Linked DNA regions of Homo sapiens: all the other regions are linked to region 5. The links come from fine-mapping of genetic effects on gene expression. A gene starts in region 5. Each other region holds a variant in brackets. All regions are shown on one strand. Distances are from middle to middle.

Evidence for each region.
Region 1: its variant is fine-mapped to the expression of FES in whole blood (TOPMed, PIP 0.98).
Region 2: its variant is fine-mapped to the expression of FES in blood mononuclear cells (TOPMed, PIP above 0.99). The same link has a PIP of 0.9 or more in monocytes and whole blood.
Region 3: its variant is fine-mapped to the expression of FES in macrophages (Nedelec 2016, PIP 0.95).
Region 4: its variant is fine-mapped to the expression of FES in whole blood (INTERVAL, PIP 0.97).
Region 6: its variant is fine-mapped to the expression of FES in ovary (GTEx, PIP 0.95). The same link has a PIP of 0.9 or more in lung.
Region 7: its variant is fine-mapped to the expression of FES in whole blood (TOPMed, PIP above 0.99).

Annotation. Positions count from the first base shown.
Region 1 is chr15:90,628,150-90,632,223 of GRCh38, forward strand. It overlaps CRTC3 (CREB regulated transcription coactivator 3), which reads left to right. Exons shown (of 15, transcript NM_022769.5): 11 at 1,085-1,383. The region is part of intron 3 of CRTC3-AS1 (CRTC3 antisense RNA 1); the gene reads right to left. Among named protein-coding and RNA genes, the nearest start is that of LINC01585, 30 kb to the right of the region's middle. The variant A/G (reference allele first, on the strand shown) is at 2,495.
Region 2 is chr15:90,806,495-90,810,494 of GRCh38, forward strand. BLM (BLM RecQ like helicase) reads left to right here. Exons shown (of 22, transcript NM_000057.4): 20 at 2,643-2,765. Among named protein-coding and RNA genes, the nearest start is that of FURIN, 60 kb to the right of the region's middle. The variant G/A (reference allele first, on the strand shown) is at 2,206.
Region 3 is chr15:90,844,504-90,848,577 of GRCh38, forward strand. The region is part of intron 2 of LOC105370969 (a long non-coding RNA gene); the gene reads left to right. Among named protein-coding and RNA genes, the nearest start is that of FURIN, 22 kb to the right of the region's middle. RefSeq lists enhancers at 336-952, 710-829. The variant CTT/C (reference allele first, on the strand shown) is at 1,608.
Region 4 is chr15:90,821,130-90,825,203 of GRCh38, forward strand. No RefSeq gene overlaps it. Among named protein-coding and RNA genes, the nearest start is that of FURIN, 45 kb to the right of the region's middle. The variant A/G (reference allele first, on the strand shown) is at 2,396.
Region 5 is chr15:90,882,288-90,886,361 of GRCh38, forward strand. It overlaps FES (FES proto-oncogene, tyrosine kinase), which reads left to right and starts at 2,217. Exons shown (of 19, transcript NM_002005.4): 1 at 2,217-2,257; 2 at 2,750-2,971; 3 at 3,125-3,298. The coding sequence starts at 2,759. It overlaps FURIN (furin, paired basic amino acid cleaving enzyme), which reads left to right. Exons shown (of 16, transcript NM_002569.4): 16 at 1-1,170. RefSeq lists enhancers at 1,266-1,395, 2,933-3,362 and a silencer at 1,793-2,302.
Region 6 is chr15:90,946,866-90,950,939 of GRCh38, forward strand. UNC45A (unc-45 myosin chaperone A) reads left to right here. Exons shown (of 20, transcript NM_018671.5): 10 at 1-49; 11 at 931-1,025; 12 at 1,277-1,418; 13 at 1,789-1,929; 14 at 2,451-2,578; 15 at 2,789-2,855; 16 at 3,289-3,402; 17 at 3,635-3,750. Among named protein-coding and RNA genes, the nearest start is that of RCCD1-AS1, 5.6 kb to the right of the region's middle. The variant C/T (reference allele first, on the strand shown) is at 1,597.
Region 7 is chr15:90,663,469-90,667,542 of GRCh38, forward strand. All of the region lies in intron 2 of CRTC3-AS1 (CRTC3 antisense RNA 1), which reads right to left. It overlaps LINC01585 (long intergenic non-protein coding RNA 1585), which reads left to right. Exons shown (of 3, transcript NR_120371.1): 3 at 887-1,486. Among named protein-coding and RNA genes, the nearest start is that of LINC01585, 5.3 kb to the left of the region's middle. RefSeq lists enhancers at 1,290-1,339, 1,380-1,639 and a silencer at 1,820-2,199. The variant T/C (reference allele first, on the strand shown) is at 2,355.

The sequences.
Region 1 (4,074 bases), 250 kb before region 5:
GAGCTTGCAGTGAGCTGAGATCATGTCACTGCACTCCAGCCTGGGTGACAGAGCGAGACTCTGTCTCAAAAAAAATAATAATAATAATAGTGATAATAATAATTTTGCCAGCTGCTGGATTTTTGTCATTTCTTCCTTTTCGTAACTTTTATCAAACACTTAAATTTTTTGTCAACACGAAACAACACATAGTTCTGCTTACCCCACCTGCTGGTACAAGAAAGATGGGCTGAAGGTTAAAACGTAGGTATTGCCAGTTGAGATACACACAGCAGCAGCAGCCGAATAATTGATTCACTGGGCGAACCTGCTCCATGCCAGGCCCTGTGCCAGGTGCTGAGGATCCAGCAGGGCATAGGACAGGATCCCCAGTTTCTGGGAGCTCATGCCCTAGCAGCCTATGCTGCAAAGATCTCTCTCCCAAATTTCCTTGCTCATGATCAAATTCACCCCTGTCCCCCAAATAAAGCACCAGCAAAAACTTCCTTTTCCCTGAGTTGGTATAGACTGTGATGAACAATTTCCTGGGAACCAGAAAATCAAAGAGGGACCCTGGGGTGGGAGATACAGGGAAGTGTCCCTTCCTGTGACTCCCTAGTGTGCTAAGGGTAATTAAAGACCACCAAGACAGCTCCCCAAGGGCCATGACTCGCCGTGGAAGGATGTTCTCCAAAGGTAGCAGGGGATGCAGGCAGTGTGCTTGGGACAGAGACCTTCCGGGGCTCTAAACAGAATTTGTTGTACAGCCCTAGGGTCCTTTCCCTGGGTCTGGGCCGAGCACCTGGAATATTTGCCTCTGTTACCCCGGTTTACCTAGTTTTGCTCACCTAGGGGTTGTTGACGTGATCTCCCTCCTCATGGGAAAACATCGTTGTCATCTTTGTGGCCCCATCTCTGTTAGTGCAGGGGCATCTTTTCCTTGCCATTGGTGCATCGGATGCAGTCCCTGTAGGAGAGCTGTCCAGGAGCTCCTTTACCTACAGAATCATCATCGCATGTGACAGTAGACAGTTTTCTTTCATTTTTGGAATACAAAAGATTTGGTCTGAAATTATAAGTAACTTGTGAATTTGTTGTCTTCCAGGTCTCCAGAGTTCTCGGAGTAACCCCTCCATCCAAGCCACGCTCAATAAGACTGTGCTTTCCTCTTCCTTAAATAACCACCCACAGACATCTGTTCCCAACGCATCTGCTCTTCACCCTTCGCTCCGTCTGTTTTCCCTTAGCAACCCATCTCTTTCCACCACAAACCTGAGCGGCCCGTCTCGGCGTCGGCAGCCTCCCGTCAGCCCTCTCACGCTTTCTCCTGGCCCTGAAGCACATCAAGGTTTCAGCAGACAGCTGTCTTCAACCAGCCCACTGGCCCCATATCCTACCTCCCAGGTAAACACACACAGACAGACCAACCACTACAGTGAAACAGACTGCAAGATATAGGAAGTGCATTCCTCCTCTTTACTATTTTGGGTTACACTCATTATTACACCAAGCACCCATGAGGTCTCAAGTGCAGTCTGTTCGCTCTTATATGTGAAATCAGAGCAGAAGTGTCAATAATGCAGAATGAATTCATGATTTTCTTTTCTTTTTTTGAGAAAGGGTCTCACTCTGTTGCCCAGGCTGGAGTGCAGTGGCACAATCGCGGCTCACTGCAGCCTCACCTCCCGGGCTCAAGCGATCTTCTCACCTTAGTCTTCGGAGTAGCTGGGACCACAGGCATGCACCACCATACCTGACTAATTTTTTGATTTTTTTGTAGAGACAAGTTCTCGATATGTTGCCCAAGCTGGTCTCAAATGCCTGGACTCAAGCCATCCTCCCAGCGTGGCCTCCCAAAGTGCTGGGATTACAGGCATGAGCCACTGCACCCAGCCTAATTAATGATTTTTTATTATAATAATAGCAGATTTGCTGTGTTGATTACTCTTTAAGCAAATGTTGAACAATCTGTAGTCACTAACTCACAAACTTGGGGTTGAGAGGAACGGTAGGATATAGAGAATGCCATCCAGGTAAGTCTAAGGCAACTGAGGGAAACCAGGTTAGGATTTCAAAGTTGGCATGGAAAATCAGTCATTGACTCTCTAAGTACATTAAGCCATAGGGGAAAGCCAAAGAAAACATTTAATACCTTCCTGAAGCTTTGATAATGAATTAGACCTCTTCCCTAATTGTCTACAGATTTGAGAAACAATACTTTTATTGTTCATGAAATGCTAAGTATGTTGAGGATTATATCTCTTATAAGGATGAAAAGAAGTCTGTTGAGAAAGAGGCACATTTAAAAGTCACCCACCCATACAAAAAATGGAAAAATTAGCTGGGTGTGGTGGCACACGCCTGTAGTCCCAGCTACTCCAGAGCGGAGGTGGGAGGCTCACTTGAGCCCAGGAGGTCGAGGCTGCAGTGAGCCAAGATAGCCTCACTGCACTGTAGCCTGGCAACAGAGTGAGACCCTGTCTCAAAAGAAAAGAAAAGCCCATTATAGAAACAC[A/G]GGGGTTGAAACATCCTATAAATTCTAAACTCAGAGGTGGTTCTCCTTATACCATAATCATCGAGGAATGTGTTTTCAACCTTTTGTCACATCCTCTGTCTATTACAGCATCATTTTTTTTTTTTTTTTTTTTTTTTTTTTTTTTGAGACGGAGTCTCGCTCTGTCGCCCAGGTCGGACTGCGGACTGCAGTGGCGCAATCTCGGCTCACTGCAAGCTCCGCTTCCCGGGTTCACGCCATTCTCCTGCCTCAGCCTCCCGAGTAGCTGGGACTACAGGCGCCCGCCACCGTGCCCGGCTAATTTTTTGTATTTTTAGTAGAGACGGGGTTTCACCTTGTTAGCCAGGATGGTCTCGATCTCCTGACCTCATGATCCACCCGCCTCGGCCTCCCAAAGTGCTGGGATTACAGGCGTGAGCCACCGCGCCCGGCCTATTACAGCATCATTAACTACTCACCACCTCGCCATAAATTAATGATTTAGAAGGAAGAGTTGACAGAACACAACGGAGAGTTAGAGGATCTTGTTATTGGTCACTCTTTACCAATTACTAGCCGTGGCGTGTTGATCGTATGAGTGATCTCTTTTGGGCGAGGGTGAGAGGACATTTCATAATTTTTAAGTCTCACTCTGTCGCCCAAGCTGGAGCACAATGGCACGATCGCGGCTCCCTTGCCTTGAATTCCTGGGCCCAAGTGATCCTCCTGCCTCAGCTGGGATTCTTCAAGTAAATGTGACTACAGGCCCATGTCACCACACCCAGCTAATTTTTTTAATTTTTTTGTAGAAACAGGGTCTCCCTGGGCTGGGTGTGTGCCTCACACCTGTAATCCAGCACTTTGGGAGTCCAAGGCAGACGGATCACTTGAGGGTAGGAGTTTGAGTCCAGCCTGGTTAACATGACGAAACCCCATCTCTACTAAAAATACAAAAATTAACCGGGCATGGTGGCACACGCCTGTAATCCCACCTACTCAGGATGCTGCGACGTGAGAATTGCTTGCACCCTGGAGGTGGAAGTTTGCAGTGAGCCAGGATTGCACCACTGCACTCCAGCCTGGGTGACAGAGTTACTCTGTCTCAAAAAAAAAAAAAAATTAGAATTAAAAAAAGAAAAGAAAGAAATAGGGTCTCCCTATGTTTTCCAGGCTGGTCTTAAACTCCTGAGCTCAAGTGATCCTCGCACCTCAGCCTCCCAAAGGGCTGGAATTAGCCAGTGTGCCTTGTGCCAGGCATGAGCCACTGTGCCCTGCCATAATTTTTATTTTTTTTTAGAGACAGCGTTTCACTCTGTCACCCAGGCTCGAGTGCAGTGGCGCGATCACAGCTCACTGCAGCCTTGAACTCCCTGAGCTCAGGTGATCCTCCCACCTTAACCTCCCAAGCACATAGGACTACAGGTGTATACCATCACACCCGACTAATTTTTGTATTTTTTTTTTTTTGTAGAGATGGGGTTTCACCATATTGCCCAGGCTAGTCCATAATTATTGTTTTCGTGGTTCTTATGTTATTGAATTACCTTTAATTTTATTTTGCAAGATTATTTTATAAGATCTAAAAGTATTCTTGCTTTTTA
Region 2 (4,000 bases), 76 kb before region 5:
AGCGAGACTCCATCTCAAAAAAAAAAAAAAAAAAAGTCTGCAATGAAGAGCTAGTTTCCTTATGAAGAGATTATGTTTTATGCTTCTTTGAATCTGGATCTAGCACACTGCTATGTCTTTAGTTAATAAATACTTACTGGTCTGAGTTATTTCCATGGGCAGATAGCCCAACCCAGAATTTCAGTAGTAGAGTTCCTGGAAAACAACGTCTTCATATAGTTGGCCAGCTGGGCTATATTACCTTCCATATTCTTCTTCATAAAATCTCATAATCATCACCTTCTCTCTTCTTCATTCCCTCTCCTACGATAATCGGTCATTACAATATTTCACTGACTCTAAGATGCCAACTATATTAAGATACTGTTACTTTATGGACTATTAAGGAAGAAAAAATTCTGCTAATTAAACTATGACACAGTGCTTTTATTGAAAAAATTGTGTTTTACTGATTTAGACATTGATTTTTATTATCCACAGCTGTGTGCCTGTATGAAAAATACATATAATCAAATTACCGTAGGTACTTATAAAAGTTCACATTCAAAGCCTGACTCTTCTGAGTCACTTTTTGACTGAGTCGTCCATGTCTTTGTTTTTCCCTATGTCATCACTAACATTCTCATTAGCCATAAGGCATTTCCAGAGTGTTCCACTATTTTCCCCAGGATTTAATCGAAATCTCTGTTATCAGTTCTGTTTTGAAGGTGGTGGTTTCTTGATGATACCAGAAGGTGTCAACAGAAGGTTGTACATCTCTCAGTAACAAAAATGTAGTGCGGCCTCATCTACTTTGGGCATCTTCTTTCTTAGGTCACGTAAAGCACTTGGTTGTACTTGCGAGAAACTATGGAATTGGGGGCCTGTGTCCTCAGAGACAAATAGTGCCTGGGTTTTTTTTGTTTTGCTTTGTTTTGTTTTTTTGGAGATAAGATCTTATTCTGTCGCCCAGGCTGGGTGCAGTGGTTGAACACAGCTCACTGCAGCCTAGACCTCCTGGGCTCAAGTGATCCTCCTACCCCAGCTTCCTGAGTAGCTGGAACTACAGGCATGTACCACCATGCTTGGCTAGCTTTTTTATTTTTTTGCAGAGACAGGGCCTCACTGTTACCCAGACTGGTCTCATACTCTTAGGCTGAAGCAATCCGCCCTGTCTCAGCCTCCCAAAGTATTGGGATTACAGGCATGAGCTACCACGCTCAGCCAGATAGTGCTTTTCTTAATACCAAATGTATTCCCTGCTACTCTGTTTCAGAACTTTTCTGCATTCACAATCACTTTTTTAATGCTAATCACAGTATAGTCTTTTTGAAGACATGTCATGGCAGTTAGACTCAATACATGAGGTACAAACAGTGCAGTGACTTTGTTGACATGCTGACAGTACTAATAGCTATGACTAAGTTCTCACAAGCATGAGCAGTAACAACCGCAAGGCAGCTGCCATTTAGCCATCAGCAGTTCTAAGACATATCTTGACCTCAGGAATGCTAAATTGTGAAAAGGTGTGTGTCTTAGAATTGATGAAATTTGGTATTTTATGATATGTTATTTCTAGGCGATTAGTGTAGTTTCTTAACTGTCCTCCTTACCTCCAGCTGTGAATGTGATGTACATTTTAATCTTTCAAAACCTAGTAAAACTACAACAGCTTCCCAGATAAAGTATACATTTTATCAAGGGTCTACATTTCTTCCTGCCTCTCCTACTTTATCTTTCATTAAACCCCCTTCATAAACCTTCTGTTCTGTCCACAGTCTCTTGCTTTTCCTCTAAACATGGGAATGATGTGAAAATCACAGATGGGAAAGGATTTGAAATCCACTCTTTGCTCAGCTCAAATACATAGGAATGGTTACTCCCTCACTACCCAGAGCCAGTGCATCAGTCAGTCCTACAGAGCCAGCCTCCAAAACTCACCCAAGCTTGCTTCACTGTGTCTCCACTACTGCATTCCAGTTCACTCCATCCTCACTCGCTCCTGCAATGGCTTCCACCAGGCTCCCGGATTCTACTCTTTCCTTTACAGTCAAGTTCTTAAACAGCAGCCAGGGTGGCCTTTAAATGACAGGCTTGTCTAGCTGCAAGACTGATATGCGACCTCTATGCAGAGGACTCAGCTGGCTGCTTGTTGCCTCAACCCACATGGGGAAAGAGTGGAGGAAGAAAAGTTTGTGCTGGAGGAAGTAACAATTTGGTTATGCC[G/A]TCTAGGGTGGGGTGTACAAGTCTGGAGTGCAGAGAAGAGGCTGGAGCTGGAAATAGAAATGCAGCGTTCTCAGTAAAGAGAGGGCACACCAGTCTCAGCTAGATGAGTACTGGCCATGGGAACAGTGGGCAAGAGCAGATCTGCTCCACTCCACGCACATGGCACAGGTCCCACCCTCAGCTTCCTCCTGCCCTGGCTCTTGCCCTTGCTCTGCCCTGGCCTATGCCGCTGGAATTGGATGGTGGGTTCCTGCCCTCTGTGCCTGTCTGCTGCCTCTGAGGTGCTAACTTTGCCTTTTACAAAATTGGCCTGTGTTCCCAGTACCCTGCAGTTAGTTGGCACTTAGCAGACGTGTGCTGAATGCGTGAATGAGCCTGAATTCAGTGGGTTTTCTATGGGTGATAATTTAAATTCCTAATTTTATGCCTTTGCACAGAATCTTTATCTTCTGATCCTGAGGTTTTGCTTCAAATTGATGGTGTTACTGAAGACAAACTGGAAAAATATGGTGCGGAAGTGATTTCAGTATTACAGAAATACTCTGAATGGACATCGCCAGGTTAGTACACAGCCATGTGTGTTCTCTAAAAGCCTGTTTAATGTGAAGCGACGCGTCTCACTGAATTAGAAGGATGCAGTTGTGTGAATGCTTCCTACACCTCGTCACACTGACATCCAAGTCAGCCCCCAGTGGTGTGCCAGTCACCTCTGAGAGGACACTAGTGCTTATGCCCCCTGTGAGTGCCAGTTCTGAACTTACTCATAGGATCCAAAAGGGGACCTTTGGGCCCAGGGGTTGCTGGTTCCCGTAATGCAAGTGCTCAAGGGATCAGAGCCCTGGGTACCAGTTCCAGATCTGCCACCACGTCATGCTGTGTGGTCTCTAGCAGGCCACCAATAGCCTCTTTGTGAATCAGGTTCCTCCACCAAGGAAGGAACATGTTATCTGACAAACATGTCTAAAGATAAAATTTAAGACTAGTGTTTAAATGTTTTGGAGAAATGAGCATGCAGCTAGAATGTTATTATTGTTAGTCATTGATAGAACCTGCCTGAGTGCATCATTATCAGACGTTCCCGGAGTCACGTTAGGCCTGTCCTGTGGCACTTCTAATCATGAGCTTCATCATCATTACAGCTTTAGAAATCATTGACCTGGGGGAAATGAGAACAACAAAGCATTTTGTTGTAGGAAATATTGAGAGCACAGAAGTCTTCTGCCCTCTGATAACATCACCACGTAATAGGACACAACAGACAGGCCCGGTTCAGTGTTCTTCCTGCTTCCAGACAGGCAGTGTGGGGGTCTTCCCAAGGATGATGGAAATGATGAGCAGGATGAGATAGTTCAAGTTCTCTCTTTACCTAGTCGCTTTTTTTTTTTTTGACAGAGTCTCACTCCAGGCTGGAGTTCAGTGGCACAATCTTGGCTCACTATGCCTCCCAGATTCAAGCAATTATCCCACCTCAGCCTCCCCAGTAGCTGAGACTACAGGCATGCACCACCACACCTGACTTATTTTTGTATTTTTTTGGTAGAGTTGGGGTTTCACTATGTTGGCCAGGCTGGTCTTGAACTTACGACCTCAAGTGATCCACCTGCCTCAGCCTCCTGAAGTGCTGGGGTTACAGGCATGAGCCACCACACCTGGTCAGGTTCTCCTAAATTCTTCTATATGGTAATTAGTCCATTAAAAGCCTTGTTCCGAATACATTTTGACAGTGAGCCAGGGTTGGAGCAGCCATGGTGGAGTCCTGTGCCCTCCATGCTGCTCCTGTAGGGTGGCCTGTAGG
Region 3 (4,074 bases), 38 kb before region 5:
CGTCTCTACTAAAAATACAAAATTAGCTGAGCGTGGTGGTGCAGCTCTTCGGGAGGCTGAGGCAGGAGAATCGCTTGAACCCAGGAGGCGGAGGTTGCAGTGAGCCGAGATCATGCCATTGTACTCCAGCCTGGGCAACAAGAGTGAAACTCTGTCTCAAAAAAAAAAAAAAAAAAGAAAGAAAAAAAAGAAAAAATAATTCTTTAAAACTCTTTTTTAGAGACAGGGTCTCACTCCATCACCCAGGCTGGATGTCATCATAGTTCACTGTAACCTTGAACTTCTGGGCTCAAGCAATTCTCCAGCCTCAGACTCCTGAGTAGCTGGGACCACAGGCGCATACCACCACGCCTGGCTAAAACTGGTTCCTTTTTTTTTTTTTTGAGACAGTGCCTTGTCCTGTCCCCCGGGCTGCAGTGCAATGGCACAAACACTGCCCACTGCAGCCTTGACCTCCTGGGCTCAAGCGATCTTCCCCTACAGCCTCCTGAGTAGCTGGCACCACAGGCACGTGCCACCATGCCTGGCCAAATTTTTTTTTTTTTTTTGTAGGGATGGAGTCTCACTATGTTGCCCAAGCTGGTCTCAATCTCCTGGGCTCAAGCCATCCTCCTGCCTTGGCCTCCCAAAGTGCTGGGATTAAAGGCATGAGCCACCGTGCCCAGCCTAAAAATGGTCTTGATTCAATGAGTGAGTAAATGAAGCCTGTGCCCAGGGCCTGCCAGGCCCCCTGGGGCTGCCCACAGGGTAAACACAGACCCACACGGAGCCCCACTCCAGGCCTGGTCGAAAAAAATGCTGCTCCAGCTGAAGGCTTTCTCAGAGAAATGACTCAGCCTGAGCACTCAGATGCAACTTCCACGTTTTATGGACTGAAGGTGCTTTCATAACAGCTGGTGATGATGAGCCAGAGGCGGGCTATAAACAGAGCGGTGATCTGGTCCTGAACACTCAGGTCTCAGCCCCCACCCACAAGCAGGGCCTCTGAGGCTGTGGCTTCTCCACACTGGTGCTGCTTTGTGCTGGCAAATAGCACAGGCCCCCAAAATGACCTGGAGGCTCCTTAACTGAGGAGGCAGATGAGTGACAGGGCCAGACCTGCAGCCTCAAGGGCCTGGCTGTGCCCTCCCTAGCTCCCTTGGGCCTGGGAGCCTTCCATGAACCTGTGGCCTGGGACCAAGAGCATGGGGGGCCTAGTGATGTGCCTGGTGGGGAGCGGGGAGTGCTGCCAGCAATGACAGTCCCGCTGGGGGGACGTGGTACAGACTCACTGAGACACAGAACCCTGTGAGCAAGGGGGGTTCACTTAATCCTCCCTGAGGACTCAGACAGGTGGGCTGCAGGCAGTGGGGTAGCCTTGCCTCTCACTCATGCCCACCCACCCATTTGCTCATTCATTCAGACAAGCGTGGATTGAGTATTTTCTTTTTTTTTCTTTTAAAGACAGGGTTTTGCTCTGTCGCTCAGGCTGAAGTGCAGTGGCATGATCTCAGCTCACTACAGCCTCATCCTCCCAGGCTCAACCGATCCTCCTGCCTCGGCCTCTCAAAGTATTGGGATTACAGGCGTGGCCCACGCCTGGTGAATTGAGCACTTTCTTTCTTTTT[CTT/C]TTTTTTTTTTTTTTTTTTGAGATGGAGTCTCACTCTGTCATCCAGGCTGGAGTGCAGTGGCATGACCTCGGCTCACTGCAACTTCTGCCTCCCGGGTTCAAGTGATTCTCCTGCCTCAGTCTCCCAAGTAGCTGGGATTACAGGCACCCACCACCACGCCCGGCTAGTTTTGTATTTTTAGTAGAGATGGGGTTTTACCATGTTGGCCAGGCTGTTCTTGAACTCCTGACCTCAGGTGATCCATCCGCCTCGGCCTCCCAAAGTGTTAGGATTACAGGCGTGGGCCACTGCGCCTGGCAAATTGAGCACTTTCTTTTTTTTTTTTTGAGACCGGGTCTTGCTCTGTCACCAGGCTGGAGTGCAGTGGCCCAATCTCAGCTCACTGCAACCTCCACCTCCCAGGTTCAAGCGATTATCCTGCCTCAGCCTCCAAGTAGCTGGGATTACAGGCACGCGCCATCACGCCCGGCTAATTTTTTGTATTTTAGTAGAGACAGGGTTTCACCGTGTTAGCCAAGATGGTCTCGATCTCCTAACCTCATGATCCACCCACCTTGGCCTCCCAAAGTGCTGGGATTACAGATGTGAGCCACCGTGCCCTGCCAAATCGAGCACTTTCTAAGTGCCCACCTGTCAGCGTCACCCCAGGCTTTCCCATCTCAGCCCGTGGCTCCACTCTCCTCTAGCTACTTTGGCCAAAAACCACAGAGTCATCTTGGATCCCAATTTTTGCTTCACCCCCACATCCAATCTTTCGGCGAGTCCCGTCTGCTTTACCTCGGCACATCATCAGTGCGCTCAGTGCACTTCCCAGCCACCTCCCACGCTGGGCTGCTAACCTTCTGCCAGGTCACCATAGCTACCACCAGCTCCTCCTGACCCTTTGGCCTTGGTCTCTAAAACCCATTCTCCTCTCATCAGAGTGACCTCATCCCAGCATCATTCTGACCATTTCTCATCTTAAAGTCCTCAAAAGGGTCCTATCAGATATTAACAATTTTTAAAGAAATTAAGACAGAATGGCTTTGGCATCTGGCTATTAAAAAAAAAGGGTAGGGGGGGCCGAGTGCGGTGGCTCATGCTTGTAAACCCAGAACTTTGGGAGGCCAAGGTGGGAGGGTCCCTTGAGCCCAGGAGTTCGAGACCAGCCTGGGCAACACAGAGAGACCCTGTCTTTACAAAAACAAAATTAGCTGGGTGTGGCGGCACATGCCTGTAGTCCTAGCTACTTGGGAGACTGAGGTGGCAGGATCACTTGAGCCTGGGAGGTTGAGGCCGCGGTGAGCTGAGATCATGCCACTGCACTCCGGCCTGGGTGACAGAGTGAGAGCCCATTTAAAAATGAAAAATAAAGGGAAAAAAAAGGACAGAACAGGAGTCCCGGAGACAGAACCTTGCATAAATGAGAATTTGCCGTATGACAGAGAAGCATCACCAACCAGTGGGGAAAAGATAGACTCTTTTATAAATGGCGTTGGGACAAGTGGTGATCCATATGGGAAAGTAAAATTAGATCCCCACCTAACACCACACACACAACTCCAGGTGGATTCAGGACTTACATGTGAATAACAAAATTTTAACACATTTAGAAGAAAATATAGAAGAATATTTTTATGACCTCAGGGTAAGGAACAATTTCTTTTTTAAATAAACTTTTTGTTTGATTACAACATGCATAGTGTACAAGTCATAAGGGTGCCGCTTGATGAAATTTCACAGTGACCCCAGCTGTGTAGCCAGCATCCAGATCAACAAGCGGGATGTAAGGCCAGGCACGGTGGCTCACTCCTGTAATCCCAACACTTTGGGAGGCCGAGGAGGGCGGATCAGAAGGTCAGGAGTTTGAGACCAGCCTGGCCAATATGGTGAAACCCCGTCTCAACTAAAAATACAAAAATTAGCCCGGCATGGTGGCACACACCTGTAGTCCCAGCTACTTGGGAGGCTGTGGCAGAAGAATCGCTTGAACCCTGGAGGCGGAGTTTGCAGTAACCCGAGATCGTGCCACTGCACTCCAGCCTGGCGAAAGGGCGAGAATCCGTCTAAAAAAAATAAAAATAAAAAACACAACAACAAATGGGACATAGCCAGTGCCTTCCAAAGCCCCCACGTGCCTCTTTTTTTCTTTCTTTTTTTTTTTTGTTTGAGACGGAGTCTTGCTCTGTTGCCCAGGCTGGAGTGCAGTGGCATGATCTCGGCTCACTGAAACCTCCGCCTCCTGGATTCAAGCAACTCTCCTGCCTCAGCCTCCTGAGTAGCTGGGACTACAGGCACACACCACCATTCCTGGCTAATTCTTTTTTTATTTTTAGTAGAGACGGGGTTTCACCAGTTGGCCAGGATGGTCTCGATCTCCTGACCTCATGATCCACCCGCCTCAGCCTCCCAAAATGCTGGGATTGCAGGTGTGAGCCACCACACTCAGCCTTCTTTTTTTTTTTTTTTTTTTTTTTTTGAGACG
Region 4 (4,074 bases), 61 kb before region 5:
TTAGATTTTCTTCTTTTTTTTTTTTTTTTTTGAGACAGAGTCTCACTCTGTCACCCAGGCCAGAATGCAGTGGCGTGGTGGCATGATCTTGGCTCACTGCAACCTCCGCCTCCTGGGTTCAAGTGATTCTCCTGCCAGGTAGCTGGGATTACAGGCGTGCACCACCACATCTGGCTAATTTTTGTATTTTTAGTAGAGACAGGGTTTCACCATGGGGGCCAGGCTGGTCTCACACTCCCCACCTCAGGTGATCTGCCCGCCTCAGCCTCCCAAAGTGCTGGGATTACAGACGGGAGTCACCATGCCCAGCCTAGGTTTTCTTTTCCTTTCTGTTTTTTATTTTCGTTGCTGTTGTTGTTGTTTGAGATAGTCTTGCTCTGTGGCCCAAGCTGGAGTGCAATGGTGGGATTCTGGCTCACTGCAACCCCCGCCTCCTGGGTTCAAGCAATTCTCCTGCCTCAGCCTCTCGAGTAGCTGGGACTACAGGCGCGGGCCACCACACCCGGCTAATTTTTTGTATTTTTAGTAGAGATGGGTTTTCACCATGTTGGCCAGGCTGGTCTTGAACTCCTGACCTCTCAGGTGATCCACCCGCCTCGGCCTCCCCAAGTGCTGGGATTACAGGTGTGAGCCACCGTGCCTGGCCTAGGTTTTCTTTTGCTTGTGTACCAATGTTTTTGGCTGGTTGGCGTCTTGTTTGTGCTGAAATAGCAAGCCAGTTTTCCTCACTTTGGAGCTGCATTGTCTATCATGTGAAGATGTTCATAACCACCAGTGTCTGCTTCTAGCTCTTTCCTATCCTTTGTTTCTGGAGTTTACTTGTGTGTGAGGAAGGCTTTTGTGGGGACCAAGGTACATGGAGCAGTTGGGAGGTGAAAGTTTGTCACTGGGTCCTACCTGTGCAGAACGTCAGTCCCAGCCGAGAAAGCAAGGGCCAGGGCAGTAGTTCTCAAACTTGTGTTAGCCTCAGTCACCTGGAGAGCTGGTTGTGCCATGGCTTCCGATGCAGCAAGTCTGGAGTGCGCCCCAGAGGTGTGCATTTCCACCGGGTCTCCTGGTGGTCCCGATGCTGCCAGCCCCAGGTGAATACAAACCACAGCTGCCGAGAATTTTAGCACTGAGGTCTTGGGCAAGGCATTCTCCTCTCCTTCATCCTTGGTTTCCCATCTGCAAAAGTGAGGGAGTAGGGTGCAGTGGCTCACACCTGTAATCTCAGCACTTTGGGAGGCCAAGGTGGGAGGATCACCTGAGCCTAGGAGTCTGACACCAGCCTGGGCAACATAGCAAGACCCCGGTCTCTACAAAAAAATTTAAAAATTAGCCCAGCTGGTAATGTGCTTCTATAGTCCCAGCTACTCAGGAGGCTGAGGCAGGAGGATCTCTTGAGCCTGGGGAAGTTGAGGCTGCTGTGAGCCGTAAGCCATGACCATACCACTGCACGCCAGCTTGGGCAACAGAGTGAGACCCTGTCTCAAAAAAAAAAAGTGAGGGCATTAGACTCCGTGATGGCTGTCACCTCCATCCTCAAGTTGGACAAGACTGTCGGGGTGGGCTGGGGATCTGTGGGAGGGAGGGTGTTTGAGAATGTGGAAGTGGAACAGCCTTGCACGGGAGCTGTTTTCAGGAAAGGGACTCATGACAAAGCCAGGGTTCTAAGCCCCTTCCAACACCAAAGGGCCTCTTAGAGAGAGACTCAGAACTTAAAGGGAGACTCGGCAACCAGGAAGCAAGTAGCAAAGCATCACTCCAAGCAGGCATTTTGCAGTGTATGAGAGGCAAAGGAAACCTCCTTTAAAACTCTGGAAACAAGCATAAACTGATATTTCCCAGGCCCTGCCAGCCTGGGAGTCAAATGAGGTCATGTTACCACCCAAATCTGCCTGAGAACAGAGTCCTGTCTCCCTGCCGGGCCAGGCAAATGCCACTTCAAGATACAGTCCGTTGAGAACCCCTAGACTGGGACCTTAAGCTGCAACGTGTGATGAAGGCTTTCTAGAAAAATGCAATTGCAGGGTTGGTCTAGAGCCCGCTTTTCTTGCCTGGGCCCCAGCAGGATCCAGTGGCCTGAGCGGGGAACAGATTCAAGTCCCAGAACAGGATGGGGGACAGCCTCACCTACCAATTTCCTTTCCATTCTTTTTTTTTTTTTTTTTTTTTGGAGACAGGCTTTCGCTCTGTCACCCAGGCTGGAGTGCAATGGCGCGACCTTGGCTCACTGCAACCCCTGCCTCCTGGGTTCAAGCGATTCATGTACCTCAGCCTTCCAAGTAGCTGGGACTACAGGTGCCAGCCACCACGCCCAGCTAATTTTTGTATTTTTAGTAGCGACAGAGTTTCACCATGTTGGCCAGGCTGGTCTTGAACTCCTCACCTCAGGTGATCTGCCCGCCTCAGC[A/G]TCCCAAAGTGCTGGGATTACAAGCATGAGCCACCATGCCAGGCCTGCAATTTCTTAGACTATTGAATGGCCCTGGAGTCAGATTGCTTGGGGTCAAAGGCCACTTTTACCACCTGCTGTGTGACCTTCAGCCCTTGAGCAAGTTATTTAACTTCTCTGTGCCTCAGGGAGCTCATAACAGCACTATACTGTGGGGTGGTGCCAGATCTGTCTCATAGACCCTGGCCAACGGATGAAATGAGTTCTCAGACACAGGCATACAGCATAAGAGCAGCTGGGTGACTGCCTGGCTCAAGTGGCCAGAGAGCAGCCCCAAGAAGCTGGAGCTGCTTGCTTTTATTCAGTGCAGGCACAATGTGGAAAACCTGGAGCCGACACGACCTGCAGGTAACTGACAATTACTGTGGCCAGGCACGGTGGCTCACGCCTCTAATCCCAGCACTTTGGAAGGTCAAGGCAGGTGGATCATGAGGTCAGGAGTTCAAGACCAGCCTGGCCAAGATGGTGAAACCCCGTCTCTACCAAAAATACAAAAATTAGCTGGGAGTGGTGGCACGCACCTGTAATCCCAGCTACTCGGGAGGCTGAGGCAGGAGAATTGCTTGAATCCTGCCGGGGTAGAGGTTGCAGTGAGCAGAGACAGTGATACTGCACTTAAGCCTGGGTGACAGAGTGAGACTCTATCTCAAAAAAAAAAAAAAGGTATTGTTCCCCTTTCAGGGAACCTCACACCCGCATGATCAAAGGTCAGTTCCTGGACAACATAAACAAACAAGCCTTTTAAGATAAATTCCCCCACACTCCCTTGTACCTACTCCTTGCCCTCTGCCTCAGGGTTATAGAACAGCTGCCTTCAGTTATTCTCCCCCAGGGCTCTGCAAAACCTTCTGACCTTTCGGAAGGTTTGCATCCTTTCCCTATAGTTTTTCCCACCACTCTGACAGATCCCCCACAGGGTCGACTGGGGGATTATGAAGACTAATAGGATAATGCCTGCTCAGCCCATAACGGAGTGTCTGGATCTCAGTGAAGGTTATTGTACTGTAATACGTAGACACTATATGTACTCATTGTTTGCCGCATATATTTGTGCAGAAGTTGATTGGTGAATAAACAGGACATCGTTTTCACTCAGTGGGTCTCAGCCATTCTCAAACTAATCCTTTTATGGAATCAGTCTCAAAAAAAGAAGCCTTCTTCAGGCATGGCTACACCCAGCTATCCAATCATAATGTAAGCATCCAGGTTTTGGAGCTCTAGAAATTGGCAGAACAGGTAGACAACACCCCATAATATAGGTCTCAATCCAGGCTCTAGGAACCCCTGGAAAATCCTGAAATAGATGTCAGAGGGTATCTAAACCCCTCAAGTGCATGTATTATTCTTGTGTGTCTCTGCAGATTTCTGGGAAAGGGACCACCATCTTTCTCAGGTTGTCAAAGGAGCCAGCAACCCCCGAAAGTTGTAAGATTCTGCCTCAGGGAAGATGATGCAGGCCTCAGCAGGTGCCCTCAACAGCACAGACACTCCCAGGGACACCCCGGGCACCCCAGGCACCAAAGCACTGGGGCAAAGATGAGAGTGGCTCACTCCACATCTCCTTTGCTGAGAGCCAAGCCCTCTCCAAAGCCAAGAGAAAACAACAAAATCGGACGGCAGTGCACACTCAGAAGCATGAA
Region 5 (4,074 bases):
ATATCTGAGGGAGGAGGCCACCTCTCCAAGGGCTTCTGCACCCTCCACCCTGTCCCCCAGCTCTGGTGAGTCTTGGCGGCAGCAGCCATCATAGGAAGGGACCAAGGCAAGGCAGGTGCCTCCAGGTGTGCACGTGGCATGTGGCCTGTGGCCTGTGTCCCATGACCCACCCCTGTGCTCCGTGCCTCCACCACCACTGGCCACCAGGCTGGCGCAGCCAAGGCCGAAGCTCTGGCTGAACCCTGTGCTGGTGTCCTGACCACCCTCCCCTCTCTTGCACCCGCCTCTCCCGTCAGGGCCCAAGTCCCTGTTTTCTGAGCCCGGGCTGCCTGGGCTGTTGGCACTCACAGACCTGGAGCCCCTGGGTGGGTGGTGGGGAGGGGCGCTGGCCCAGCCGGCCTCTCTGGCCTCCCACCCGATGCTGCTTTCCCCTGTGGGGATCTCAGGGGCTGTTTGAGGATATATTTTCACTTTGTGATTATTTCACTTTAGATGCTGATGATTTGTTTTTGTATTTTTAATGGGGGTAGCAGCTGGACTACCCACGTTCTCACACCCACCGTCCGCCCTGCTCCTCCCTGGCTGCCCTGGCCCTGAGGTGTGGGGGCTGCAGCATGTTGCTGAGGAGTGAGGAATAGTTGAGCCCCAAGTCCTGAAGAGGCGGGCCAGCCAGGCGGGCTCAAGGAAAGGGGGTCCCAGTGGGAGGGGCAGGCTGACATCTGTGTTTCAAGTGGGGCTCGCCATGCCGGGGGTTCATAGGTCACTGGCTCTCCAAGTGCCAGAGGTGGGCAGGTGGTGGCACTGAGCCCCCCCAACACTGTGCCCTGGTGGAGAAAGCACTGACCTGTCATGCCCCCCTCAAACCTCCTCTTCTGACGTGCCTTTTGCACCCCTCCCATTAGGACAATCAGTCCCCTCCCATCTGGGAGTCCCCTTTTCTTTTCTACCCTAGCCATTCCTGGTACCCAGCCATCTGCCCAGGGGTGCCCCCTCCTCTCCCATCCCCCTGCCCTCGTGGCCAGCCCGGCTGGTTTTGTAAGATGCTGGGTTGGTGCACAGTGATTTTTTTCTTGTAATTTAAACAGGCCCAGCATTGCTGGTTCTATTTAATGGACATGAGATAATGTTAGAGGTTTTAAAGTGATTAAACGTGCAGACTATGCAAACCAGGCCCAGTCTCCAGTGTGGTACCGTTGCTCCTGCATCGCAGCTGAGGATAGGGGGCCAGTTAGGCCTACACAGTGGCCTGCCTGCCTGGATGTGGGCCCAAGTCAGAAGGCCAAAGTCCTCCAAGGGGCGGGAGGATGCGCCAGCCCCTAGTGGAGGAGCTGGTGCCCCTGGGGTGGGGCTGGTGACCCCTGGTCCTCAGGAGCTGAGCACTAAACTCCCAAAGTCCTGGTTTCCAGCAGTGTGAAGAACTGGGCCTATTGTGTCTTCCTGGGCTGAAGTGATCTGGTCGCCACAGGCTATAGGGCTGAGGCCTAAGGTGGAGGGAGGCCTGACTGAATCAAGATGACTTCTTGTGGGGAGCCTGAGTCCCAAATGGAAAACTCCACGCCTGTCCGCTCCCCAACCCCTGCCCCTTGATTTCCCCAGGTCTCCCTTGGGACAGGAAGCCCCTGCCTGGGGGTAGGAGGATGGGGACAAAACCACTAGGATCTGTATCCGAGAAGCAGTCTCTGTTCGGGATATTTACTTGGAAATTTTATTCAAATGGAAGCTGGCGCCTGAGCCTCTCCTTAGGGAATTCCGTGAGGTGGGGAGGGCTGGGACCAGGGTTCCCTCTTTCTCTTCTGCGGTGGCCCTGGCCTGGTGCTAGGACTGCGCGCCTCCCCTCAGTACCCGCGGACACCCTGGGCTTCCCTGGGCCCAGCATCTGCCTGGGGCCTCGCCCTGGGCTCCCCCTCCTGACCCCCACCTTGCGCCCCTTCCCGGTGTTCCCGGGGCGCTGCCGGGCCCTGGGGCCTGCGGGGCGCGGGCGGCTCTTGGCTGGGCCATTCTTTCCCGGCCCCCTCCTCCCTTCCGTTTCCGTGGCCGTGCGGCCGGCTAGAGGCTGCGGCCCAGCGCGGAGCAGGGGGGCTGGCAGGCGTCGGGGCGGTCGGGCCGGTCCCGCCCGCCCCTTCCCCTCCACAGGCCCGCCCCGGGGCCTGGGCCAACTGAAACCGCGGGAGGAGGAAGCGCGGAATCAGGAACTGGCCGGGGTCCGCACCGGGCCTGAGTCGGTCCGAGGCCGTCCCAGGAGCAGCTGCCCGTGCGGGTACCTCTAGCCCCGGGGCCTGGAGGAGCGGTGGGAGCTGGGGGCGCGGCAGGCAGGGGCAGAGCAGGCGTTCCGAGGGCCAGAGACCCACCCAGGTGGGGGTAGGGGCCGCGGAAGGGCGGGGATGGCCGCAGGGGCAGGGCTCAGGCTGTGGGCGCCTGAGGCTTCAGCTGGGGCAGGCTTGGCCTGTCGAGGACCTGGGCAAGGGTGTCCCTGTAAGGGGTGGTGGGTGGAAGGGCCTGGGGAGGGAGGCTCCAGGTTGGCTCCTGTTCCCGAACGTGCGGAGGAGACCCTGACGCTAAGGAAGCAATGAGGGCCAGTCCCCAGGCCAGGCTGCTGCTGGGTACCCATGGCTGCGTGTGAGCGAGGCAGGACCCCACCTCCTCCCCGTCTGCAGTCCATCCTGACCCTACAGTCCCCAGTCTCCTCGTCCCATGCCTCCGTCTCCAGCTGCTGCCTTGCCTCCAGGGATGGCCCCTTTTCTGTCCCCAGAACAGCACTATGGGCTTCTCTTCCGAGCTGTGCAGCCCCCAGGGCCACGGGGTCCTGCAGCAAATGCAGGAGGCCGAGCTTCGTCTACTGGAGGGCATGAGAAAGTGGATGGCCCAGCGGGTCAAGAGTGACAGGGAGTATGCAGGACTGCTTCACCACATGTCCCTGCAGGACAGTGGGGGCCAGAGCCGGGCCATCAGCCCTGACAGCCCCATCAGTCAGGTGGGTCTCTATGGGACTCTGGTGGGTGCTGGCTGTATCTGCCTTCTCCTTCCTCTCCTGGGGGCCCTCTGGGGCAGTGGCTGGAGATCTGGCAGGCCAATGCTTGGGAGCCATTGTGCCCCCCTCCCTGCCTCCCCCATCTGTGCTGTATAGTCCTGGGCTGAGATCACCAGCCAAACTGAGGGCCTGAGCCGCTTGCTGCGGCAGCACGCAGAGGATCTGAACTCAGGGCCCCTGAGCAAGCTGAGCCTGCTCATCCGGGAACGGCAGCAGCTTCGCAAGACCTACAGCGAGCAGTGGCAGCAGCTGCAGCAGGAGCTCACCAAGGTGAGCGGGCAGCACTGGGGCTTCGGTCATTTCTGTCTAAATTTTGAGCCTCGAAGGGGTTGTTTTGCACAAGAGGCCCTGGATTCACTGGGGAAGTGTAAGTCCCTGACCGCAGGCCTGGCTTGCTCTAACCTTGATGCAGCTTCCTCTCTTCCTTCCCCTACGTTGAGCTGGCTTGCAGCAAGGCCTCTCTGTGCTTTTTCTGTGCCTGGGCAAAGTGCTGGGAGTGTAAGGATGAGTGACCGGTCACGTGCCTGGGAGAAGCTCAGAATCGGTACTCGCCTCCACACTGTGCCATCTGGCTCTGGGTTCTGAGAGTCAGGGAGAGGAATGAGGGTCAGTCTGTTTGCCTTCGACCTAGGCAGCCTCCTCTCAGGGCCCCAGAGACTGGGCAGCAGCATGGCCCCCCGAAGGTCGAGGATTCGGGCCGTGAAGTCAGCCTGCCTAGGTTTGAATCCCACCCAGCTCCTCAGTCTAGAGGCTGTGTGATTTGGAACTATTTATCTGGGAGCCTAGTGCCCCCATTCAGTGTGCTGGTCACCCTCCCTGCACCACACCCCTTCCTCAAGTGCAGAGCCCAGCCTTGCCATGGACCCACAGCGGCCCCTGGTGGCCACCCTGGCCCCATTCCTCGCCCCAAAAGATCATCTGATTCAAGGGTGGGCCCATTTTTATAAAGTTTTGCTGGAACACAGCTATGCCCTTTTGTTTTCATATTGTCTGTGACTACAATGACAGAGTTGAGTAATTGTGACAGAGGCTCTATGGCCTACAAG
Region 6 (4,074 bases), 65 kb after region 5:
CCTATATAAGTGCAGCGAGAAGGACAGCATCCGCATCCGGGCGCTAGTGGTGAGACGGTGGGCCTGGGGTGGGTGGGCAGGCAGCCAGGCAGGGGTCCTGGTCCAGCCGGTGTTGCAGGGTGTGGCCCCAGCACACTCCAGATGAAAATAAGGAATACTGTAATGCCAAAAAAATTAGCTAGGCTTGGTGGTGCATGCCTATAGGTCCAGCTACTTGGGAGGCTGAGGCAGGAGGATCACTTGAGCTCAGGAGGTTGAGGCTGTGGTGAGTCACGCATGTCACTGCACTCCTGCCTGGGCAACACAGCAAGACCCTCTCTAAAATAAATGGATGAATGAACGAGATTCTGGGCTTTCTTGTGGTGAGAGACATCGGCATGGCTCCTCCCTCCATGGGGCTTAAGACTGGGCCTGCAGGGGTCATGCAGTGTTCCTGGGAGCTGGTGGTTTGGGGGTTTGGGGACTACCTGGCCCTCCATGAGCCTGTTGTGGCTGTGCACCCTGTGGAAGCTGGTCTTCCTCCCTGGGGCACTCAGTCCTGGATTTCTCCATCCCATAAGGATTTGGCTGTGGCTGAAGCACCTGTCCTCTCCCCACATGCCTCTCAACTCCACCTGCAGAGGGCTTCTTTGTGCGACATGGAAGGAAACAGAGCCATTCTCAGTGTGGCCTGGGAAGGGGTGGGGCCCACGACTGTCCAGCGGCCAGCGCATCAGTGTCTGCAGATGCTGTGTCATGCGGCCACCCCAGTAGCTGATTTTCTTGCCACATGCTCTAGGTGGTGGTCTGGAGGGAGAGGGTGCTGATTTGTCTGTGTAGCTTCCAGGGGGCCATGGCAGAGTGCCAGGGAGGGAGTCCAAGCCAGGTGTGGAGGAGCTCAGCTCCTGCCTCCTTCCCCAGAGGCCAACTGGTCTTGCCCTCTTCCTCCAGGGACTCTGTAAGCTCGGTTCGGCTGGAGGGACTGACTTCAGCATGAAGCAGTTTGCTGAAGGCTCCACTCTCAAACTGGCTAAGCAGTGTCGAAAGTGAGTCATCTGGCCTTGCTGTGGTTCCCCACCTGTGGGGTAGATCTCAAGACACAGGGGTCTGGGTGGGGGTTGGGGCCTCCTCCGTCCTGCTCTCTGGCTCAGGCAGGGGCTGCAGTCTGGATCCTGGTACGTGAACTGCTTCTGTACATTGAGGGGATGCCCAAACCCTTGGTTTTTCCCCCTTGGCCTTGGTGTACCCCTCCGTACCCCCAATCCTGAGGGTCGTCCACTATCCTGCGTGTCCCCAGGTGGCTGTGCAATGACCAGATCGACGCAGGCACTCGGCGCTGGGCAGTGGAGGGCCTGGCTTACCTGACCTTTGATGCCGACGTGAAGGAAGAGTTTGTGGAGGATGCGGCTGCTCTGAAAGCTCTGTTCCAGCTCAGCAGGGTAGCTCTGTGGTTCCTGCCGTCAGCCTGGGGACACTGTCTAGGATTAGACCTTACCAGGCTTTCTCGGCAGGGCTTGGCCAATGGGGTCTTTTGACCCCAGGGAAGAGGGCTGGTGGCTGAGTGGCTGCTCTGTGTAGTGTGGGCATGTTGGCCAGCACCAGTGGTGTTAGCAAGGA[C/T]GTTCTTCTTGGAGGAGCTGGGGAGGTCAAGTTTGTAAGCTCCCAAAGTCTGGGGCCTGGGAGTTTCCCGAATTCATCCTGTACCCAAGGGTCCCAGCTGAGGGTGGAATTGGGGGCCTGGGCCTGGGCAGCATTTATCTGAGTACTGCTCTGCCCCGGGATGCCCATGTGAATTCCTCTGTGTCCTGGCAGTTGGAGGAGAGGTCAGTGCTCTTTGCGGTGGCCTCAGCGCTGGTGAACTGCACCAACAGCTATGACTACGAGGAGCCCGACCCCAAGATGGTGGAGCTGGCCAAGTATGCCAAGCAGCATGTGCCCGAGCAGCACCCCAAGGTGAGGGGCCGCCAGAGGGGCTAGAGGGTTCCCCACCATGGGGACAGCTAACCCAGGGCATCCACAGCAGAACAACCTCCCTTTTTTTTTTTTTTTTTTTTTGAGATGGAGTCTCACTGTCTCCCAGGCTGGAGTGCAGTGATGCGATCTCGGCTCACTGCAAGCTCCGCCTCCCGGGTTCATGCCATTCTCCTGCCTCAGCCTCCCGAGTAGCTGGGACTACAGGTGCCCGCCACCATGCCTGGCTAATTTTTTGTATTTTTAGTGGAGACAGTGTTTCACCGTGTTAGCCAGGATGATCTCGATCTCCTGACCTCGTGATCCGCCTGCCTCAGCCTCCCAAAGTGCTGGGATTACAGGTGTGAGCCACCGTGCCCAGCCAACAGCCTCCCTTTTAAGCCAGTTTGTTTCCTTTTGTCTGGCTGTTTTATTTCCCAGTTCCTCAATTACTGCTGTGAGAAGGGTCCCCCTTTCTCTGTGAGTCAGCCTAGGCCCCTCTCCTAAGCTGCCTCCTCCCCCAGGACAAGCCAAGCTTCGTGCGGGCTCGGGTGAAGAAGCTGCTGGCAGCGGGTGTGGTGTCGGCCATGGTGTGCATGGTGAAGACGGAGAGCCCTGTGCTGACCAGTTCCTGCAGAGAGCTGCTCTCCAGGTGAGCCAGCCTTGGTAGGAGCCAACCTTTCCCAACTCCTGAGCCTCAGGGCTGCAGATGTGGCTCCAGAGGGTGCAGGTTCCAGTGCTGTGGGCCTCTTAGAGCGACGGGGGCTGCCTGCGTGGCTGCCGTCTTTGCTGAGCCTAGGAGTGCAGCGTCTGCCTGCCAGAGTCCCAGAGCTGCCTGCCCACCACCGCCTTCTCCCCACAGGGTCTTCTTGGCTTTAGTGGAAGAGGTAGAGGACCGAGGCACTGTGGTTGCCCAGGGAGGCGGCAGGGTAAGCTGGTTTACACACCCCTTCCTGATGGCTGAGCCATCAGCCTATAAAACATGACTCAGCAGCTGCCACGCCAGAGCTGGGTGTTAGATATGGAACAGAAAAACATTAATGGCCAGAGGAACACCGTCCCGCTGAGAGAGTGACGCGGAAGCAGGCAAGCTCCTTGGCCCCTCCACACTGGTGCCTGTGAAGGTCCTAGGCTCTACTGTTCCTTTGTCTCATTTACCCCCATGGCCCTGGTGCTCAGCACAATCCATGTCCAGCCCTTATTAGGTGTTTCAGGAAGTGTTTGGATGCAGAGGGTCTGCACAGGGAGTCAAGCCTGGGGAGAGGGAGGAAGGTGAGGGTGGCACGGTCAGGGCTGGGGAGCCCGATGGTCGGGGTCTTACTCCCAGGGATGTCCTGAGCAGTGACGGGCTTGTTCCTACAGGCGCTGATCCCGCTGGCCCTGGAAGGCACGGACGTGGGGCAGACAAAGGCAGCCCAGGCCCTTGCCAAGCTCACCATCACCTCCAACCCGGAGATGACCTTCCCTGGCGAGCGGGTACGTGTCTTCCTGCCCCGGCCTTTCCACTCCCTCTGTCCCTGATGGCCTGTGGGCTGGGCTGTAGCTCCCCTTTGGGACCAGCAGGAAGTTTCAGCTTTGTCAAGGCCTGGGGCAGGGAGGACAGCCTGAGACAGCAGTACTCTCTTGGGGGTGGGCTTCTCCCTGCAGGGTTGGTGGGGCTTGTGGGGGCTGCGGCAAGTACCCCTGACAGGTGGGGTGCACATTGCAGATCTATGAGGTGGTCCGGCCCCTCGTCTCCCTGTTGCACCTCAACTGCTCAGGCCTGCAGAACTTCGAGGCGCTCATGGCCCTAACAAACCTGGCTGGGATCAGCGAGAGGCTCCGGTAAGGTCCCTTGGGATTGCGGGGCCTGGACCAGGCATCGGGATTCGGAATATCCCCCACAGCAGTTTACACATTGGGAAACACTCCTTGGTCATGGGCTTCTGTGAGCCTCACAGTGACTGCTCCGCATCATTAGAGAGGAGGCGACAGGCCAAGAGGCAGCACGGCACGGCAGACTCTAGAGTCAGACTGCCTCGCTTCCCTGATTGCAAATGGGCAACCTCAAGCAAGTTACTTAACTGCTCTGTCTCAGTTTCTCCCTCTGTGAAATGGGATGATTATAGTACCTACCTCATGGCATAGTGATGAGGAGAATAAAATGAG
Region 7 (4,074 bases), 220 kb before region 5:
AGGGACAGTGCAGGGGGAACTGGGTGCTTCATCATATCAGATTGTCCCTGGAAGCGGAAATAAATAGGCTTACAGGAAATTGGATTATTAAGCAGAAGATCAACAAGAGAAACCTATGTGGCAAGTGAGGGAAATTAATGGAGAGATGAAAAGAAAACAAGGGAAAATGCCAGGCATTTAGGATAAAGTGTGAAGATATAGTATGAGGGAAAAACACTTTAAGTTTCTGGATAAAATAAATCAGGTGGAAGGAAATCAATAATCAAAAACTTGTTCTCTCTCTCACTCACACCACACACACACACACACACACACACACACACACCCCATTGTAAAATCCTTAAGGACAAAGAGCTTGTCTATTTTCTTCACTGCTCTCTCCCCAGAACTTAAAACAGTGCCTACCTAGCATATAGTAAGCACTCAATAAATATTTGTCAAATAAATGAATGCAAGACTTTAAAATGAACTGAGATGGGTCATCTTGTACCAATTAAAACGAGACTACTGACCCTAAGCTATCTCTTGGCGAAACTCTTAAACTTGGTACAAAAATAAAGACTTCTGGCCAGGCGTGGTGGCTCACACCTGTAATCCCAGCACTTTGGGAGGCCGAGGCGTGTGGATCACCTGAGGTCGGGAGTTCAAGACCAGCCTGGCCAACATAGTGAAACCCAGTCTCTACTAAAAATACAAAAATTAGCTGGGTGTGGTGGCGCATGCCTGTAATCTCACCTACTCGGGAGGCTGAGGCACAAGAATTACTTGAATCCGGGAGTGAGAGGTTGAAGGGAGCCAAGATGGCCACTCCAGCCTGGGCAACAAGAGTGAAACTCCGTCTCAAAAATAAATAAATAAATAAAGACTTCTCCCAAATTTCATGCAGAAAAAATTCAAACTTAGATGATTTCCGAAGATCTTAATAATCAGGACAACCGTGAACTTCTCATGCAACCGTCAATGCCTGAGACAATGGAGTGAAAGCTACCAGATCCTTAAGAGAAAAGTGTCCCCCAGGACTCTTAAAGCCACCAGCCCTGATGTTGGCCACGGGAAAAGACAATCAAGGAAAATCTCCGACCTTCGGTGAAATGCAGAGACTAAGGGACCCCTGTGCTGCGTGTGATGCGATTTTGAGAGAAAAAAAAAAAAAAAGGCCAGGTGTGGTGGCTCACGCCTGTAATCCCAGCACTTTGGGAGGCCCAGACAGGAGGATCCCTTGAGCTCAGGAGTTAGAGACCATTCTGGGCAACATGGCAAAACCCTGTCTCTACAAAACAAAACAAAACAATACAAAACAAAACAAACAGAAAAATAGCCAGGTGTGGTGGCACGTGCCTGTGGTCCCAGCTACCCTGGAGGCCTAGGCGGGGAGATCGCTTGAGCCTGGGAGGTCGAGGCTTCAGCGAACCAAGATCACGCCACTGCACTCCAGCCTGGGCCACAGAGCAAGATTGTCTTAAAAATAAAACAAAACAAAAACTAACGGAGCCCTGAAAAGGGAGCGCAATTCATCAATCCGCTGACGGTGATGGGCCCCCTGGCCCGGTGCAGCGGACCCTTAGGTCCTGGTGGGGGAGTCGGTCAGTCAATGCATGGGTGAGCAAATGAGTGAAGCAACGCGAGCACAGCGCTGGCCCGGATCTAACTTGGCGGTGACAGCCCAGCCCCGAGCTGGACATGGCAGGCCCCTCGGCCTGGCCGTTGCCTGAGAACCCTAGGATCACAGCGTTGGGCCGGAGTGGGACAGGGCCGGGTAGCGTCCCCCGACAGAGCTGGGTCAGGGCCTTGTTGTGGCCGGGGGCAGGCCCGGCAGCTGAAAGCGTAAGACCCCCGGAGCCCGGCACAGCGCTCCTCACCACCGGGAAAGGCGGCTGGGCCTGACCGGGCTCCCGCATCCCCCCACCCCGGAGCGTGCAGCCGCCCCAAACCCCCAGCGGCCTCCGGCTTCCAGGTGAGCAGCACCGGAAGGGAGCGGCGCCGCGTCCTCACCGCCGCGGGGGGGGCTCCCCAGCCGCGTCCCCGCCGCTTCACGCCCTCCGCGTGGAAGGACGGGGGCCCGGGGACCCCTGCAAACGGCTGAGACCCCAAAGCCCGGCTCCTCTGCCCGGCTGTCCCTCCCCGGAGCTCCGGCCGCACGGCCGCTTCCGGCACCGAGGACGCCCCGGGCTCCAGCGTTCAGCCTGCGTTTCTGGACACCCGGGATGCGCAGGGGGTTGGACAGGACCGCCCCAAACCTGCGTCGTGGGGCTTCGCCCTCCTGAGATCACCCAGGCAGCCTGTGCGCGGCCCCACCACAGCGCCTGAGGCGGCACCGCCTGAGCGCGTTCAGAAAGTAGGCAGTACTTTTATTT[T/C]TATTCTTATTCTGAGACAGGGTCTCGCTTTGTCGCCCAGGCTGGAGTGCAGTGGAGCGATCTCGGCTCACCACAGCCTCGAACTTCCGGGCTGAAGCCATCCTTCCGAGTAGGTGGGACTACGGGCGCACGCCACCACGCCCGGCTAATTTTTAAACTTTTTGTAAAGATGGGGTCTCACTACGTTGCTCAGGCTGGTCTTGAGCTCCTGAGCTCAAGCGATCCTCCCGCCTTGGCCTCCCAAAGTGATGAGATTACAGGCGTGAGCCACTGTGCGCGGCTGGTAGTACTTTTTGTACCTTGGGGACAAAAATAAAAACCCAGGCACTTAAGTGGCACTCCTACAGCAGCAGTGACTTAATAACTGGAGATAGAAAAATAAAAAAAAATAAAAAAAAATACTGGTGTCTGAACAAAGAGACATACTTAGAAAATTGTGTTATACTGACTGACATGCCTAATTCCCATCCCTTGTGGGGCGTGGGGGGCGGAGCACTTACTCCTCACCCCCGAAACCCCTCAAAATGATAAAAATAAGTGAGCAAAACAGACCCAAAACAGCAGCCCTAGCTCCCATCATTCCCAAGCAGTTTGCTGACTGACTCACCTGGCATTTCGTGGATGCAAAGAAGAGCCCCTTCCACCAGGTGAAGAAGAAAAGGGGGTCTGGGCACTATGGCTCATGCCTGTTATCCCAGCACTTTCGGAGGCTGAGGTAGACGAATCACTTAAGGTCAGGAGTTCAAGACCAGCCCGGCCAACATGGTGAAACCCCGTCTTAACTAAAAACACAAAAAAATTTGCCGGGCATGGTGGCACCTGAGGCAGAAGAATTGCTTGAACCTGGGAGGCGGAGGTTGCAGTGAGCCGAGATGGTGCCACTGCACTCCAGACTGGGCAACAGAGTGAGACCCTGTCTAGAAAAAAAAAAAGGAGACGAGGAAGGAGAAGAAACACGTGGTTTTAGGGGGGTTTATCTGAGGGTGGCCAGGCAGCTCCTGGGAATCTGCGCTGAGGAGCAGCCAGGCCTGGGGGCAGGGATGTCCAGGGGGAGCCAAAGCAGGCCCAGCTTGCCTTCCTTTCTGTCTGCGCCTCTGTTGCTCGGTGGCATCTTTTTTCGACTGTGTCCCTGTTTCTGTCTTTCCATCTTGCCATCACTTGAATCCTGTTTGACTCTGTCTCCAACTGTCCCTGCCTCAGGACAGAAATCTCTTCTCCCTGTTTCCCCAGCTCACCTACTTTTCCCCTCTCCCCGCTGTGCAGAGCTGCTCCCTCACCTCTGCTGAAACACGTGGGTCTTTCCATGATCCAAACAAGTTTGGTGATTACACTAACTGACCCTGTCTCTGGATGTCCCCATCCAGATCCCCAGGGCAGACTGAGCAATGGGCTCAGTCTCTGGGGCACTTCCCCACGGGGCAGCTGCCCCCTCTGCCCTGTGGTTGTGTGAGCACGTGGGGTTGGAATGGGGACACAGTCCACTCTTGGGAGTGGCAGTGAGTGTGAGAGTTCTCAGCTAAAGGGCAAAACCTGGGGACACACCTCAAAAAAAAGGCTTCTATTTAGGGCAGTGAAACTACTCTGTATGATACATCCATACTCTGTATGGATGCATGTCATTGTACATTTGTCCAAACCCACAGCATGTTCAACAGCAGAGTGAACCCTAATGTACGCTGTGGACTCTGGGCAATGATGATGTGTAGGTTCATGGATTGTA